Linked DNA regions of Homo sapiens: regions 1, 3 and 4 are each reported to be linked to region 2. Evidence: microRNA targets listed by miRTarBase, many of them from high-throughput screens and not tested one by one. Region 2 holds a microRNA gene; each other region holds the end of a gene's coding sequence.

Region 1 (4,167 bases), not on the chromosome of region 2:
AAGTTTTGGTTTGGAATTTTTTTTTTTAAGACAGTCCCTCTATCACCCAGGCTTGAGGGCAAGCTGCGCCATCCTTGCTCACTGCAACCTCTGCCTCCCAGGTTCAAGCCATTCTCTTGCTTCAGCCTCCTGAGTAGCTGGGAATTCAGGTGTGCACCACCACGCCTGGCGAATTTTTGTATTTTTAGTAGAGACAGGTTTCACCATGTTGGCCAGGCTGGTCTCTAACTCCTGGCCTCAGGTGATCTGCCTGCCTCGGCCTTCCAAAGTGCTAGGATTACAGGCATGAGCCACCATGCCTGGCCAGATTTTGGAATTAGGGATGATCATCCTGTATGATTAGTGGCAAAAGCATTAACTGGTAGATTTACACAAAGAATAAATAGTGTCAGGTACTCTAATCAGTCACATGCTGTGAAAAACTTAAGCTACTTTTAGAATAAAGGTAGATAATTCCAGGGTAACACTGCCCAATCTATATTTCTCATTAAAGAAAAATGAATTGGCTAGAAAATTATTTTCCCTTCAGAAAAAGCTTCTCACTCAATGCCTTTCATACTAGAATTTTCTAAAGTCCCTTCATAAATGTATTTCTGTGCTTCACTCTAGGGTTCTGGGTACACTGCAATGATTCCAAACTAAGCATGTGCACTATGGATGAAGTATGCAAGGCTCAAGCTTATATCTTGTTTTATACCCAACGAGTTACTGAGAATGGACATTCTAAACTTTTGCCTCCAGAGCTCCTGTTGGGGAGCCAACATCCCAATGAAGACGCTGATACCTCGTCTAATGAAATCCTTAGCTGATCCAAAGACAATGGGGTTTTCTTCCTGTGATTTATATATATACTTTTTAAAAGACTGATGTACCATTTTAAACTTCATTTTTTCTTGTGAATCAGTGTATACTACATTTATACATTTTATATCTAACAATTTTTTTTTTTACAAAGTATAAATGTATATATCAACTGAAGGTAACTACTTTTTTCATATTTGGAGTTTTAAACTTTTGGTGTTTACCTCAGACTGATGTTACCTCTTTTATATTTTTATGTCTTAATTGGCTCGGATGATGAACTTGTGCAATCTTCTACCAACAAAGTTCAAGTGGCATCATTTTATATACATGTATCTTTTTCAGGTATTTTCTATACAAATTCTTAATAGATGGAAAATTAGACTCTACTTTGGTCACTAATAGTCTTTCATTTGTATATTGAAGTTACCTTGCCCCTTGGAGTTATTGAAGTGACATGTCAAGGTATCACCTAAATATTCTTCAGTCACACTCACTGGTATTTCTGAGGCTTTGTGTGTTAACAGGCCTTGTAATTGACATTATTTTGGTTAATGTAACCCCAAAATTGCTTTAGTAATTGCTCTTTGGCATAGTCAAACTATAAATGAAAATGGCAGCTTTACAAATAGTATATTTAAGTGAACTCTGGAACTATGGACATGAAAAAAATGATGGCTGGGATTTATGATTTTTGTCTGGCAGCAAACAGGTTTGTCCAGAAGTCTAATAATTAAGCAGTCATAAAAAGTCTGAATTTAGTAAACCAGTGTATGATGTTATTCAAATAGTTTACCTTGGGTATGAGTTCATTTTATAATGTCTGATGACATTAGATCTCTTAAAACTTTATGTATTTTTTTTAGTTCAAAGGAATAGAGTCTTGAAGAGAAAAAATTATAGGGCAGAAAAGATAAGTGTTCAAAATTGGCAACTGGACTATTATTATGTCTAGCATCTCATTCTAAATAACTAAAGCTTGATTTACTCTTGCTAGGATTATGTGACTACTAGGTAGGAGCCTCTTAAAACACTGGCCCTGAGCATTAAAAAAAAAAAAAAAAACTAAAAGCTATCTATCTAAACTTGCACAAAAAAAAATACAGTGTGAGTCACTCTTTTTCTTCTTCTGATAATCTCACTGGGTTTCTTTAAAGTCCTGTTGCTGCTAACTTTATCTTATTTGGAGAGGGTAGAATCAACTAATCTCTGTAGACCAGCTATGTATCTAAGCTCTGTTAACCACAGGAAGATCATGTATCCCTTTTTTATAAGTGGGTTTATTTGCAGGTTGAAGTCTTAGTGAAAGATAGTATCCTGTAGAATGCTGTTCACCACTAGTGATCATCTGTTAAGTACAAACTTGAAAGAGGTCTCTACCAATAAATTTTTCTTAAATTTCACAAAACAAGTCATCTGGGTTAGCTGATAGTGAGGTGCAGTGAGACTTTTATCACTGAATAGACAAATCATTTGTGCCGAAAATACATCTGGAATATTAAATGGCTATGTTTAAAATTGTTCATAATACCTATGCAAGTTGTTACCTCAACTGTTACACACTTCTTAATACCTCATTAAAAATTTACATGGTCAAGATAACCAGAGTCTACTCTTTTCTAATTTCAAGGACTATTTTTAACGTTATACATTTTAGCACGTCATTTTAATGGAACTGTAAAAACTCCTGAGCTATTTGTAATGGTATCGTTGCTTGTACTTATTTCAATATAAAAACATACAAGAGGCCGGACGCCATGGCTCATGCCTGTAATCCCAGCACTTTGGAAGGCCGAGGCGGGCAGATCACAAGGTCAGGAGATCAAGACCATCCTGGCTAACACAGTGAAACCCCATCTCTACTAAAAATACAAAAAAAAAAAAAATTAGCCAGGCGTGGTAGCATGCATCTATAGTCCAGCTACTCAGGAGGCTGAGGCAGGAGAATAGCTTGAACCCGGCTGCAGTGAGCTGAGATCGCGCCACTGCACTCCAGCCTGGGTGACAGAGCGAGACTCCCGCTAAAAAAAAAAAAAAAAAAAAAAAAAAAAAAAACAAAGTGACTTAGCCCTTTACTTTTTAATCCCTTAAAACTAACAAACACCTATGGGGGGAGGCTTGGAAAAGGGGGATATTATTGGGGGGGGGTCTGGGAAATCTGTAGTACTTTCCACTAAATTTTAGTGTGAAAAATGTCTCAAAATACCAACAATAAAATTAAAACCTAAACAATAAACAGAAACTTAGATTTCTTACTATTTATCTTAAATCTCAACATGGACGTCTACATTCTGCTAAGTTGATCTAACAAAAAACAACATGTTTTAGTTGTAAAATAATTTACTAAAGGCACTATTGTTAAACATCAAACTAATAACTTGTTGCCAATAAGGTACATCGTTGTAAACATAACAAAATTTTAAGAGATACATGGCTAATAAGCAAACAATACAATTTTTAGTTACAGCTTTCCTACTTACAAGATCATGTCCCTTCCAGCCATTACAAGGGCATACAGTGATGCCATTGCTCCCAACAGTTACCTGGGAAGGGAGCTTGGAGCTCCTAATTGGTTTGAGATCATGACTGCCAAGGTCTTTAAAAGCTCCAAAAGTCTTCACTCATAAAGGTCAATTCTAAAATTGCTGGGTTTAGAAATCAAGATACTTGCTTTATACTTCCACATCAAAAAGATACGGACTCAACCCCAAAGGAGCTAGCTGGAGGGCCCAGCCCTGACAGTATGTCCAGGCATGAACTGGCGAGCTCTGCTGCTAGCCACAGCATCACAGAGAATGGAGACATTAGTCAAATGTGGCTACTGAACATTAGCACCATAATAAACATAGCTCATACAGCTAAAACCTAGATTGTTTCCCGACAAGGTAACATTCATTTATAGCTCTAATGCTGAAAGAGCAGCTTTTTAATGTAACAGATGATCTAGGTACACAAGTCATAGGTTTCTCTTCCTAGGATAAAAACGTTCAACAAAATACAAACTAAACAGCATCCCAGAGGCAATAAAATCTCATTGTACTGAAACATATACAAATTAAGGCTACCTTGATATATAAATGATTTAGAAATTATGATGGAACATTCCCATAAAATTATTTAAATATAAGAATTCAATTTGTCAAAGAATCAGTAGTGGGCCTCAGTTCAAACAAATTAATATTACCATCGTTACATTCAACTTAATACACTTAGCCGCTATAAGGAAAGTAACTGTAACGTCACTTCCTGAAATACCACTAGTAATGTTAAGAATCCAAACCTGTCAAAGGGGAAGGTATTACAGCATTTGCCTCATGAATGAAAAAGTCCAAGAATTTCAACTTAATTTTTCTAACTAGAACAAGA
Region 2 (4,167 bases):
TCCCATGTTTGTTATTTTCTGTAGATTCAATCAAATTATCTTAAGGAAACAAATGAAGTGTCAAGCTATAGGGGTTGACTTAATCTAGTCACTCACTCAATGGAACCTTTTTCAGCCATTGCAAATAATAATGATAGAGAATATACAGAAACCTGGAAAATGCTTATGATATCAACTTAAAAAAAATCAGGGCCACAAAATCACATGGACACCATGATTGAAAAATAGGAGCAGAACCTGGAGGAAACCTGCAAAACAGACATACTTGTTACTTAAGGGTGGTGGGATTAGAGCTGAAGTTTCTTCTTTCTCTACTTTTTCATGGTTTTGTGTGTGTGTGTGTGTGTGTGTGTGTGTGTGTGTGTGTGTGTGTGTGAGATGCCACGTTTTCTTGTTATGTTGTCAAAATATAATTCTCTAAAAAGTCTTTAGGGGTCATGGGTGATACAGAAATTTGGGATCGGTCAAGGATGCACAGATCTCAGACATCTCGGGGATCATCATGTCACGAGATACCAGTGTGCACTTGTGACAGATTGATAACTGAAAGGTCTGGGAGCCACTCATCTTCATAGCAAAACATGTGGTAAGTATTACAAGACGAATCAATGAAAAGATCAGGAGGAAAGTGGGCCCTAAGCAAAGAAGAAAGGGGTTGCTATGGGATGGGGTGGGAGGATGAGTTGTGTTTTCATAGGAGTGTAATGGGAATGCCTTTATTTGTGTCTTTATTGCTTTAAATGTTTGTTGAATGAATTGAAACTTACATAAGGTATATGATTTTATACTTGTGCTAGAATGCTAAAATAAAGAATTTATGCTCAAGCAAACAACTGGAAAACACTTTGCTATAAGCATTACAGACACAGGGTCATTTTTAGTATGTTGAGTCCACACAAGTGGTCAAGAAAAACCATAAAAACTACATGAACAGAAAGCCCCAGTTAAAAAAAATGCATAAAGATGCTCATTTCAATATTTTAAGGATGGAAGTTAGGAACATCCTGAATGACCAACAACAAAGGATTAGACAAATAAAATACAGCGTAGCTAGCTAGTACAATAGAATAGGATGCTTTCATGTAAAATAATGTTTCTGAAAGTAATTTTCATGTCATGAGAATGTGCTCCTGATAAAACATTTAGCGATTGAAAAAAGGTGCAAAATATTTTCCCATCTCTGCAATATAGGTATATAGGGAGCATTCTGTATGAATAGTTTTGTATCAACATACAGATAAAAGGCTAGGAGGAAACATATAAAAACTTTATTGTGATTATCTCTGAGTTGTGGTATAAAGGTGACCAAAGAAAGATGCTAAACTATTTTTGCGATGTGTTCCTAATATGTAATATAAATGTATTGGGGACATTTTGCATTCATAGTTTTGTATCAATAATATGGGGAAAAGAGGCTATCAGGAAGTATACCAAAAGTCTAGAGGTGGTTATCGCTGACTTGTGTCACTATAGGCAATCAAAAACGATACTAAACTGTTTTTGCGATGTGTTCCTAATATGCACTATAAATATATTGGGAACATTTTGCATGTATAGTTTTGTATCAATATACAGATGAAAAGATGGAGGGAATAAGCAAAAAATCTAACAGCGGCTATCTGTGGTTTACTTCTGTGATAAATGTAAGATGCAGAATTATTTTTGCAATATGTTCCTGAATATGTAATATAAGTGTATTGGGATCATTTTGCATCCATAGTTTTGTATCAACATATGGAGAAAAGTCTAGGAAGAAATATACCAAAACTTGTAACAGTATTATAGTATAAAATTATAGGTAATGTTTGTTTTTCTCTTTATACTTTTATGTATTTTCCAAGTAATATTTGCATAAACAATAAAATGCATTGCTTTTATAGCAATAATAAAACATTTTATTTTTAAAAAGAGTTTGTATTTTTTTTAAAGCATGAACCCCTGACATAAGGGTGGGGGAAGACTTCCTATTTGGCCAGCAGTGGGCCTAGAATACTTTTTCAAACATATCTGGGAAACCTTTGTACAACTTCAGTTGGATCTGCAGTGCAAATGTGTTTTCATTTGCTCTTGGCAAAGAAAAGAGAAAGTATAACTAAAAAATATAACCACGACAGAGTTATAATAGTAATATTAGTAAACAAACTGCTATCTATGTCTAATCAAAGTAACATTTAAAGAAGTATAGAAAGCTGAAACAGGCTCCTTTTCCTCTAGTAGCAATTCAGGAAGGTGGTACTTGGATGCTCGCCCAGGGCCTCAAGACGCATTGGCCAGTTTGAGATATGCCCAAGTCAGGAAAACACCTTATTTAGGTTATTTCCACTCAGCCAACTTCTTGCAGATGCGGGTAAAGCCCCCCCTGCATTTTCCCGCAAATTCAGCTGAGCTCCATAGTAACTCTGGTGTTGCAGAACACATGTGACACCTCAATTTAGGCGATCCTTGTTCTGGTAAGAGATGGAACCATTTGGTCACGTACCTGGCCCATGGTCTGAAGGGCACCTACCAAGGTTTTAGCGTTCCTCAGTGGCACTGATTTGGACAGAGACACATTACAGGAGGATCTAAGTTCCTTCCTATCTTTTTAGTAGCATTTTGGGAAACTGTTCCCCCACCAAGGACATATTTGGCACTCTAGCAAGTCCATATGACTAGACATTACTTTCTTTTTTTTTTTTTTTTTTTTGAGACGGAGTCTGGCTGGCTCTGTCACCCTGGCTGGAGTGCAATGGTGCGATCTCAGCTCACTGCAAGCTCTGCCTCCCAGGTTCAAGCGATTCTCCTGCCTCAGCCTCCCAAGTAGCTGGGATTACAGGTGCCCGCCACCTTGCCTGGCTAATTTTTTTGTATTTTTAGTAGAGACGGGTTTCACTGTGTTAGCCAGGATGGTCTCGATCTCCTGATCTCGTGATCTGCCCACCTTGGCCTCCCAAAGTGCTGGGATTACAGGCGTGAGCCACCGTGCCCGGCCGACATTACTTTCAAAATAGATCCATCATATTCCTTAAAGGAGAAGCTGAGTTGTGAGGCAAATATATATACACATATCCATTTACAAAGATACAGGAGACCATTCCTCCAATTTTCTGATGCCCTGCCCTTGTTCTGCTTAAGAACATACAATCATACAACCAAACTGGTCCCCATGCTTAAATGTGTGTACTCCTCTTTAAGGAGCATAAGCATTTTTATCTGCCACACTCTGTCAATCAGAGCATATTTACTGGGTGCCTACCTCTGTGCTAGTTACTTGTGGATAGAGGAGCGGGTAGGGGAGAAGCGGAGGTTAAGGTGATACTGAGCCAGAGAGGCCTTGAACACACGAATACTTTGTCTGCCACTGGGTACAGAGCAGGGATCAGCTGAGGCTTTGACCTTCGTCTGAGCCAGGTCAGACCACACAGAGAATCTGCTTTGCTAAGCAACCATCTAAGTGGCCTCCTTTCCCCTAGGGCTCACTCTAGTCCCTGCTGGACAAAATGTATGGAATAGGGGCAGAGTGTGGGAGGGACCCCTTTCTAAATGGGAGGTCTCGCCTCTAGGGCTGAGAAAGAGAGAGAGAGAGAAATCATTCCAAATTGAGCATTGATCTTAAGCCCCTTTCGTTGACCAGTGAAAAAAAAATCTTCAGCCCCTGAATTTCTTTCTATATATGTATATATAGAGAAAGACAGAGAGACAGGGTCTCACTATATCGCCCAGGCTAGTCTTGAACTCCTGGGCTCAAGCGATACTCCCACCTCAGCCTCCCAAAGTATTGGGATTACAGGCGTGAGCCCCTGCGCCCGGCTGAATTTCTGAACCAGTGAAATGTCCTAGAATTTGGCCAGTACAGAGATTGCTTCTCAGAGTTGGAAGTATGCCAAGAGGGGTTGAGGAGGGGCAGGTGCAGAAGGTGCTGAGGGCTTCCCTTTGTTAACAGGGTACAAACCCTCATTTTACACAAGTCCAGCCCCTCATTTTACAGAAGAGAAAACCAAGTTGCAGAGAGAGAAAATAAGTTGCAGAGAGGTCGTGCAGAGAATTGGGCAATGTTACAACTTGAACCTTGAGCTTCAGGGCTTTTTCCATTGTAATATACTGGGTCTAAAGGACACAGGGAGTGACTTGGAAAGACTCTATGAAGGATATGGGACTTGATGAGCACCTGCAAAAGTGGGTGGGGCT
Region 3 (4,167 bases), not on the chromosome of region 2:
AGTCGGACCGCATAGACGATGGCACTGTTAATGGCCGCGGCTGCTCCCCGGGCGAGTCGGCCTCGGGGGGCCTGTCCAAAAAGCTGCTGCTGGGCAGCCCCAGCTCGCTGAGCCCCTTCTCTAAGCGCATCAAGCTCGAGAAGGAGTTCGACCTGCCCCCGGCCGCGATGCCCAACACGGAGAACGTGTACTCGCAGTGGCTCGCCGGCTACGCGGCCTCCAGGCAGCTCAAAGATCCCTTCCTTAGCTTCGGAGACTCCAGACAATCGCCTTTTGCCTCCTCGTCGGAGCACTCCTCGGAGAACGGGAGTTTGCGCTTCTCCACACCGCCCGGGGAGCTGGACGGAGGGATCTCGGGGCGCAGCGGCACGGGAAGTGGAGGGAGCACGCCCCATATTAGTGGTCCGGGCCCGGGCAGGCCCAGCTCAAAAGAGGGCAGACGCAGCGACACTTGTGAGTACTGTGGGAAAGTCTTCAAGAACTGTAGCAATCTCACTGTCCACAGGAGAAGCCACACGGGCGAAAGGCCTTATAAATGCGAGCTGTGCAACTATGCCTGTGCCCAGAGTAGCAAGCTCACCAGGCACATGAAAACGCATGGCCAGGTGGGGAAGGACGTTTACAAATGTGAAATTTGTAAGATGCCTTTTAGCGTGTACAGTACCCTGGAGAAACACATGAAAAAATGGCACAGTGATCGAGTGTTGAATAATGATATAAAAACTGAATAGAGGTATATTAATACCCCTCCCTCACTCCCACCTGACACCCCCTTTTTCACCACTCCCCTTCCCCATCGCCCTCCAGCCCCACTCCCTGTAGGATTTTTTTCTAGTCCCATGTGATTTAAACAAACAAACAAACAAACAGAAGTAACGAAGCTAAGAATATGAGAGTGCTTGTCACCAGCACACCTGTTTTTTTTCTTTTTCTTTTTCTTTTTTCTTTTTCCTTTTTTTTTTTTTTCCTTTATGTTCTCACCGTTTGAATGCATGATCTGTATGGGGCAATACTATTGCATTTTACGCAAACTTTGAGCCTTTCTCTTGTGCAATAATTTACATGTTGTGTATGTTTTTTTTTAAACTTAGACAGCATGTATGGTATGTTATGGCTATTTTAAATTGTCCCTAATTCGTTGCTGAGCAAACATGTTGCTGTTTCCAGTTCCGTTCTGAGAGAAAAAGAGAGAGAGAGAGAAAAAGACCATGCTGCATACATTCTGTAATACATATCATGTACAGTTTTATTTTATAACGTGAGGAGGAAAAACAGTCTTTGGATTAACCCTCTATAGACAGAATAGATAGCACTGAAAAAAAATCTCTATGAGCTAAATGTCTGTCTCTAAAGGGTTAAATGTATCAATTGGAAAGGAAGAAAAAAGGCCTTGAATTGACAAATTAACAGAAAAACAGAACAAGTTTATTCTATCATTTGGTTTTAAAATATGAGTGCCTTGGATCTATTAAAACCACATCGATGGTTCTTTCTACTTGTTATAAACTTGTAGCTTAATTCAGCATTGGGTGAGGTAATAAACCTTAGGAACTAGCATATAATTCTATATTGTATTTCTCACAACAATGGCTACCTAAAAAGATGACCCATTATGTCCTAGTTAATCATCATTTTTCCTTTAGTTTAATTTTATAAACAAAACTGATTATACCAGTATAAAAGCTACTTTGCTCCTGGTGAGAGCTTAAAAGAAATGGGCTGTTTTGCCCAAAGTTTTATTTTTTTTAAACAATGATTAAATTGAATGTGTAATGTGCAAAAGCCCTGGAACGCAATTAAATACACTAGTAAGGAGTTCATTTTATGAAGATATTTGCTTTAATAATGTCTTTTTAAAAATACTGGCACCAAAAGAAATAGATCCAGATCTACTTGGTTGTCAAGTGGACAATCAAATGATAAACTTTAAGACCTTGTATACCATATTGAAAGGAAGAGGCTGACAATAAGGTTTGACAGAGGGGAACAGAAGAAAATAATATGATTTATTAGCACAACGTGGTACTATTTGCCATTTAAAACTAGAACAGGTATATAAGCTAATATTGATACAATGATGATTAACTATGAATTCTTAAGACTTGCATTTAAATGTGACATTCTTAAAAAAAGAAGAGAAAGAATTTTAAGAGTAGCAGTATATATGTCTGTGCTCCCTAAAAGTTGTACTTCATTTCTTTTCCATACACTGTGTGCTATTTGTGTTAACATGGAAGAGGATTCATTGTTTTTATTTTTATTTTTTTAATTTTTTCTTTTTTATTAAGCTAGCATCTGCCCCAGTTGGTGTTCAAATAGCACTTGACTCTGCCTGTGATATCTGTATCTTTTCTCTAATCAGAGATACAGAGGTTGAGTATAAAATAAACCTGCTCAGATAGGACAATTAAGTGCACTGTACAATTTTCCCAGTTTACAGGTCTATACTTAAGGGAAAAGTTGCAAGAATGCTGAAAAAAAATTGAACACAATCTCATTGAGGAGCATTTTTTAAAAACTAAAAAAAAAAAAACTTTGCCAGCCATTTACTTGACTATTGAGCTTACTTACTTGGACGCAACATTGCAAGCGCTGTGAATGGAAACAGAATACACTTAACATAGAAATGAATGATTGCTTTCGCTTCTACAGTGCAAGGATTTTTTTGTACAAAACTTTTTTAAATATAAATGTTAAGAAAAATTTTTTTTAAAAAACACTTCATTATGTTTAGGGGGGAACTGCATTTTAGGGTTCCATTGTCTTGGTGGTGTTACAAGACTTGTTATCCATTTAAAAATGGTAGTGGAAATTCTATGCCTTGGATACACACCGCTCTTCAGGTTGTAAAAAAAAAAAACATACATTGGGGAAAGGTTTAAGATTATATAGTACTTAAATATAGGAAAATGCACACTCATGTTGATTCCTATGCTAAAATACATTTATGGTCTTTTTTCTGTATTTCTAGAATGGTATTTGAATTAAATGTTCATCTAGTGTTAGGCACTATAGTATTTATATTGAAGCTTGTATTTTTAACTGTTGCTTGTTCTCTTAAAAGGTATCAATGTACCTTTTTTGGTAGTGGAAAAAAAAAAGACAGGCTGCCACAGTATATTTTTTTAATTTGGCAGGATAATATAGTGCAAATTATTTGTATGCTTCAAAAAAAAAAAAAAGAGAGAAACAAAAAAGTGTGACATTACAGATGAGAAGCCATATAATGGCGGTTTGGGGGAGCCTGCTAGAATGTCACATGGATGGCTGTCATAGGGGTTGTACATATCCTTTTTTGTTCCTTTTTCCTGCTGCCATACTGTATGCAGTACTGCAAGCTAATAACGTTGGTTTGTTATGTAGTGTGCTTTTTGTCCCTTTCCTTCTATCACCCTACATTCCAGCATCTTACCTTCATATGCAGTAAAAGAAAGAAAGAAAAAAAAAGGAAAAAAAAAAAAAAACCAATGTTTTGCAGTTTTTTTCATTGCCAAAAACTAAATGGTGCTTTATATTTAGATTGGAAAGAATTTCATATGCAAAGCATATTAAAGAGAAAGCCCGCTTTAGTCAATACTTTTTTGTAAATGGCAATGCAGAATATTTTGTTATTGGCCTTTTCTATTCCTGTAATGAAAGCTGTTTGTCGTAACTTGAAATTTTATCTTTTACTATGGGAGTCACTATTTATTATTGCTTATGTGCCCTGTTCAAAACAGAGGCACTTAATTTGATCTTTTATTTTTCTTTGTTTTTATTTTTTTTTTTATTTAGATGACCAAAGGTCATTACAACCTGGCTTTTTATTGTATTTGTTTCTGGTCTTTGTTAAGTTCTATTGGAAAAACCACTGTCTGTGTTTTTTTGGCAGTTGTCTGCATTAACCTGTTCATACACCCATTTTGTCCCTTTATTGAAAAAATAAAAAAAATTAAAGTACACATTGTAAGCTTCTTGTGTCCTCATTTGACACACTCTGTAAATTACTTGCAAGAAAATAACAGGTTTTAAGAGAAGGCCAGTCAGTCTTTTTCAGGATTATTTCTATGGGCATTCTGATGCGTGTATTATACCCTAAAGGAACATAAAGTACTTACTATATTAAAATAGACATATCTCAAACCCTGGACATAGTTTTAAGGCTTTCCAGTTTAGAATAGTTTTCAA
Region 4 (4,167 bases), not on the chromosome of region 2:
TACAGGCACGAGACACCGCGCCCGGCCTTGGTTTGCACATTTTAAGTTTGTGATCTGTATTAGCTTTTTCCAAGTGTAGATGATATGTGGGCAATAATACATAAGCATCTGTAACTCAGGGGGGAGTTCTGGAGCTGGAGATGAAAATCTGGGATGTATTAATGTATTACCTGATATTTAAAGCCATGAAACTGGAAATGACCAAGGTAGTGGGTACAGATAGAGAAGAGGTTGGAAAATTGAGCCTTGGGAACAGTCCAACATTTAGAGATCCAGAAGGTGAGGAACAGCAAAGAAGTCTGAGAATAAGCTGCTGATGAAGTAGAAGGAATATCAGAAGGACGTAGTGTCCTAGAAGGCAAGCGAAGAGTGTTTCTAATGGAAGAGTGAGCATCGGTATCAGCTTCCACGAAGTAATGGTCAATAGATTTAGCAATGTGATGATCATTCGGCAACCTTAACAAGGGCAGCTTTGATGGGGGCGGTGGACACCTGATTAGCAAGGGTCCAAAGGAGAGTGGGAAGATGGAATTGGATAACTTGCTCTGTTTGCTGTAGAAGGGAGTAGAGAAATTGAGTGGTAGCTGGACAGGCGTGTGGGGTCAAGATAGCTTTTGTTGTCTTGCTTCTAAATTGGGGGAAATTAGTGTCTGTAGGCTGAAGAGAAAAATCAAGTAGAGAGGGATTTTTTTTTTTTTGAGATGGAGTTTTGCTATTGTTGCCCAGGCTGGAGTGCAATGGCGCGACCTTCGTCTCCCGGATTCAAGAGCTTCTGCTGCCTCAGCCTCCCGAGTAGCTGGGATTACAGGCGTGCGTCAGCCACCACGCCCGGCTAATTTTGTATTTTTAGTAGAGATTGGGGTTTCACTGGTCTCGGACTCCTGACCTCAAGTGATCCACCCGTCAAGCCTCCCAAAGTGTTGAGATTACAGGCGTGAGCCACTACGCCCGGCTGAGAGGGAAATTTTGATGGTATAGGAAAAAGCAGTGTCTTTGAGATGGCCAGAGGGATGGGAAATCTAGTAAAAGTAGGGGTTGGCTTTAGGTGGAAGCATTCTTCTACAATAATGAAGGAAAAGAAGAGTACGTGGTCACCGACTCAATTAGGTAGGTAGGTAGGTAGGTGCGATGTGAATGTTGATGGGGAACTCCGGAATGGTTTATTTTCTCAGTGAATCAGGAAGTAAAAGCTGAGAAGGGATTCGTAGTTTGAGGTGAGGGTAGGAATGAAACAGTCTCATGGGGCAGTATGAGAGTGAATGAATTGGAGGAAAGTAACGATTGCTGAGTAGCACTAAGGAGCCACCCGAGTGTGGTGGCGTTAGGAATTGAAATCCGCAGTAAAAAAGTTTTTGCAGGTCGATAGGACTATGAGAATCGCAAGAGGGCGCTCGCGGGCTGGTCCCTGACGGCCGAGTCTCTGAGATTCTCAGAATAACGCGGGAGATTCTCCAAGGAAAGAACCAGAAAACAAACTGCTTTTTCCTTCTCCAGAGACCGAGATACCTAAATACCAAAACTAGTGACGCTGTGAGCAGGATTCGAACCTGCGCGGGGAGACCCCATTGGATTTCGAGTCCAACGCCTTAACCACTCGGCCATCACAGCCGCGTGCGCTGTCGGCCCTGTGCAACTATAGCTGCCTATCAACACGCCCGCCTCCAGCCGGCTCCGCCCGGCTCCGCCCGGCTCCACCCGCGCCGCCTAGAGACGTCTGCGCTCGTGCGCCTCTGCTCGGTGGCGCAGACCATGCCTTCCCTCCAGCAGACGTCAGCAGCCCCATTGGAGCGGCAGCCTTCCTATTCTCCCTCTCCTCCCTGAGCATAGGATGGAAACAAAACGGGTCCAAATCCGAGCCCTGTCTTCCATACTCTTGAGGACAGACCCTGAGATGCCTACTTCAGGCTACTTCATGAAACCGAAGTGAGAATCTGTAGTTTCCAATACACACTAAAAGTGCAGGGAAACGGAGGTCCAAAGACGGATTGGCATGTAAGAAGAATCTTAGGGAGAGTCTAGAAGAAATGTTTCTTAGAAAGGCCCTTTGAAAGTGGAGAAGTGTACTTGCAGCAATAATATATCACTCCCCGCTAACTCAGGCACCGCTGGGATTCGAACCCAGGATCTCCTGTTTACTAGACAGGCGCTTTAACCAGCTAAGCCACGGCGCCGGCGTAAAACAGGTGTTCCTCAAGATAAATCAACTCTTAGTGGGTGACAGTAAGTGAAAATCAGCAAACTGCCTGCAGTGGTTCCTCAGTGACTCATCCCTTCCTAAGGTGCCTCTTCCCTTTCAGGTTCTGAGCCAAAGGGTTAATGCTTTGCTTCTCCATTCTTCCACACCTTTGGGGCCAACTCAACCATGAGTGAGCACATGACTCCATGTGTCCCTTAGCTACCTAGACTGACCTGCTGAAGGGCCCTCTCTGTGTGGTGACCAAGAAGCCAAGGAAGGCCGGGCGCGGTGGCTCACGCCTGTAATCCCAGCACTTTGGGAGGCCAAGGCGGGCAGATCACCTAAGGTCAGGAGTCCGCGACCAGCCTGACCAAAAATGGTGAAACCCCATCGCTACTAAAAATACAAAATTAGCCGGGCGCGGTGGTGGGCACCTATAATCCCAGCTACTCGGGAGGCTGAGGCAGGAGAATCGCTTGAACCCGGGAGGCAGACGTTGCAGCGAGCCGAGATTGCACCATTGCACTCCAGCTGGGTGACAGAGCGAAATTCCGTCTCAAATAAAAAAAAGGAAGCCAAGGAAGACAAACACCCTCGAATACCTCAGGGCACCACGGAGTTAAGCAGGGTTCCTCTGCCTTGGCCACCCGTGACCCGGGCTGGAGCTTACCCAAGCCCTTGGCCACACGCACCTCTCAGCTCTCCTTCCCAGGGCAAACCCAGCTGAGGCCATGCTAGAGGGGACAGCAGAGTCTGAGCTGGACGTGGACGTAGCGGGCTCAGCAGGGCCCTCACCTGGACAGGATGGGGGAAAAGAGGAATGGGGGTCGTCAGGAGATGGCCCTGTACACCCTCACTACAACCTTCCCAAAAGCAGGGCCACATCTCCCCTTGACATGCTCCCCTCACCCCAACCCCAAACTTCATTCCACAAAGTCCTGGGCGTTTTTATCTTTTTGTATTAAAAAAGTAGTAACAGACACAAATATCAAAAACACAAATGCCATCGGCAGAGGGTACAGCTGAGAACGCCTGGGTCCCACCTGAGGGGCAGCACCAGGGACTCCATGGTCCACCAACCTCCCCCACTCCAGAGCAGCTAGGGGCTGGAACCCCCGGGTCCTGCTTGGGCCTCAGGCTCTCCTCCCATCTGGGGAGGAGGTGGGAGAGAGAGCTGTCTCCCCGCAATAAATAAGTGCAGCCCCAACCCTCAAGAGTCAGATTCAGGCTCAGCTGGAATATGGAGAGGCCACTTCAGCAGCTTGTCAGCAACTTTGTCCAGGGGAGGGAAGGATTCCTCTCCAAAGGTGGGAGGTGACACTCCTCTGGGCTGGGCTGCGGAGTTCTGCTCTCTGCTCCCTAAGAGGCCAGAGGCAGCCCCTGGATCCTAGGCTGGTGATGGGGGTCCGGCCCCCTATGGTGGGAGAAGCTGGGGCAGTTTCCCACTGGTTGGTCTAGCCACATCTGAGTTCTGAGAATTGGGACATAGGAGAAGAAAGCCTCTCATGGACTCCTGGAGATGGTCCCAGAATGGAGTCTAGCTGGTGCAGTTTCCTGCTGTAGGTAAGGCTGGACTGGATGAGCTCCTGCCTTCTTCCTCCTCCTCCATAGCCAAGTCCTGAGAGCTTGAAGCCTTGGCCCCGCCTTGGGCCTCCTCGCAGCCCTCTCCCTCACCACTGCCGCCACCGCTGCTGCCCTGCTCGCCTCCACCCTCTTCCATGGGCTCCAGCCCCAGTCCATCCAGCTCTGAGAAGAGTGGGTCATCAGGGTGACCAGGATCTTGGGTGCTGCTCCCACAGTCCACACAGGCCTTGGTGAGAGAAATGGACATGAGAGAGTCAGACAGGGTTCTCACTGCTAACCTGCCAGCGCAGCTTCCCACCCCCAGCCCACTGTGCTTCCCGAAATGTACTCCCAAGAAGCACCAGTCCACACAGATGCACCTGCGGTCCAACAAGGTTGGACAGTGCCTTGTGCCCTCTACCCAGATG

Evidence for each region. Region 2 holds the annotated microRNA hsa-miR-450a-2-3p (AUUGGGGACAUUUUGCAUUCAU, at 1,363-1,384, shown strand). A microRNA usually pairs through its seed, bases 2 to 8, with sites in the 3' UTR of a target mRNA and lowers its output. Matches are read on the target gene's strand: a 7mer-m8 pairs with bases 2 to 8, a 7mer-A1 pairs with bases 2 to 7 and ends in A, and an 8mer does both.
Region 1: miRTarBase lists USP44 as a target of hsa-miR-450a-2-3p. Seed matches in the 3' UTR shown: 7mer-A1 at 1,362-1,368.
Region 3: miRTarBase lists BCL11A as a target of hsa-miR-450a-2-3p. The part of its 3' UTR that is shown has no 7-base or 8-base seed match.
Region 4: miRTarBase lists PER1 as a target of hsa-miR-450a-2-3p. The part of its 3' UTR that is shown has no 7-base or 8-base seed match.

The regions. Positions count from the first base shown.
Region 1 is chr12:95,514,796-95,518,962 of GRCh38, reverse strand. USP44 (ubiquitin specific peptidase 44) reads left to right here. Exons shown (of 6, transcript NM_032147.5): 6 at 610-2,403. The coding sequence ends at 809. METAP2 (methionyl aminopeptidase 2) reads right to left here. Exons shown (of 11, transcript NM_006838.4): 11 at 3,124-4,167. Among named protein-coding and RNA genes, the nearest start is that of USP44, 35 kb to the left of the region's middle.
Region 2 is chrX:134,537,746-134,541,912 of GRCh38, reverse strand. MIR450A2 (microRNA 450a-2) reads left to right here and starts at 1,306; the gene lies at 1,306-1,405. It overlaps MIR450B (microRNA 450b), which reads left to right and starts at 1,651; the gene lies at 1,651-1,728. It overlaps MIR450A1 (microRNA 450a-1), which reads left to right and starts at 1,482; the gene lies at 1,482-1,572. It overlaps MIR542 (microRNA 542), which reads left to right and starts at 476; the gene lies at 476-572.
Region 3 is chr2:60,456,968-60,461,134 of GRCh38, reverse strand. It overlaps BCL11A (BCL11 transcription factor A), which reads left to right. Exons shown (of 4, transcript NM_022893.4): 4 at 1-3,941. The coding sequence ends at 731. Among named protein-coding and RNA genes, the nearest start is that of MIR4432HG, 68 kb to the right of the region's middle.
Region 4 is chr17:8,137,355-8,141,521 of GRCh38, forward strand. It overlaps PER1 (period circadian regulator 1), which reads right to left. Exons shown (of 23, transcript NM_002616.3): 23 at 3,118-3,986. The coding sequence ends at 3,714. TRS-CGA1-1 (tRNA-Ser (anticodon CGA) 1-1) reads right to left here and starts at 1,608; the gene lies at 1,527-1,608. It overlaps TRT-AGT5-1 (tRNA-Thr (anticodon AGT) 5-1), which reads right to left and starts at 2,171; the gene lies at 2,098-2,171. RefSeq lists silencers at 1,478-1,537, 1,558-1,727, 2,088-2,137 and an enhancer at 2,535-3,213.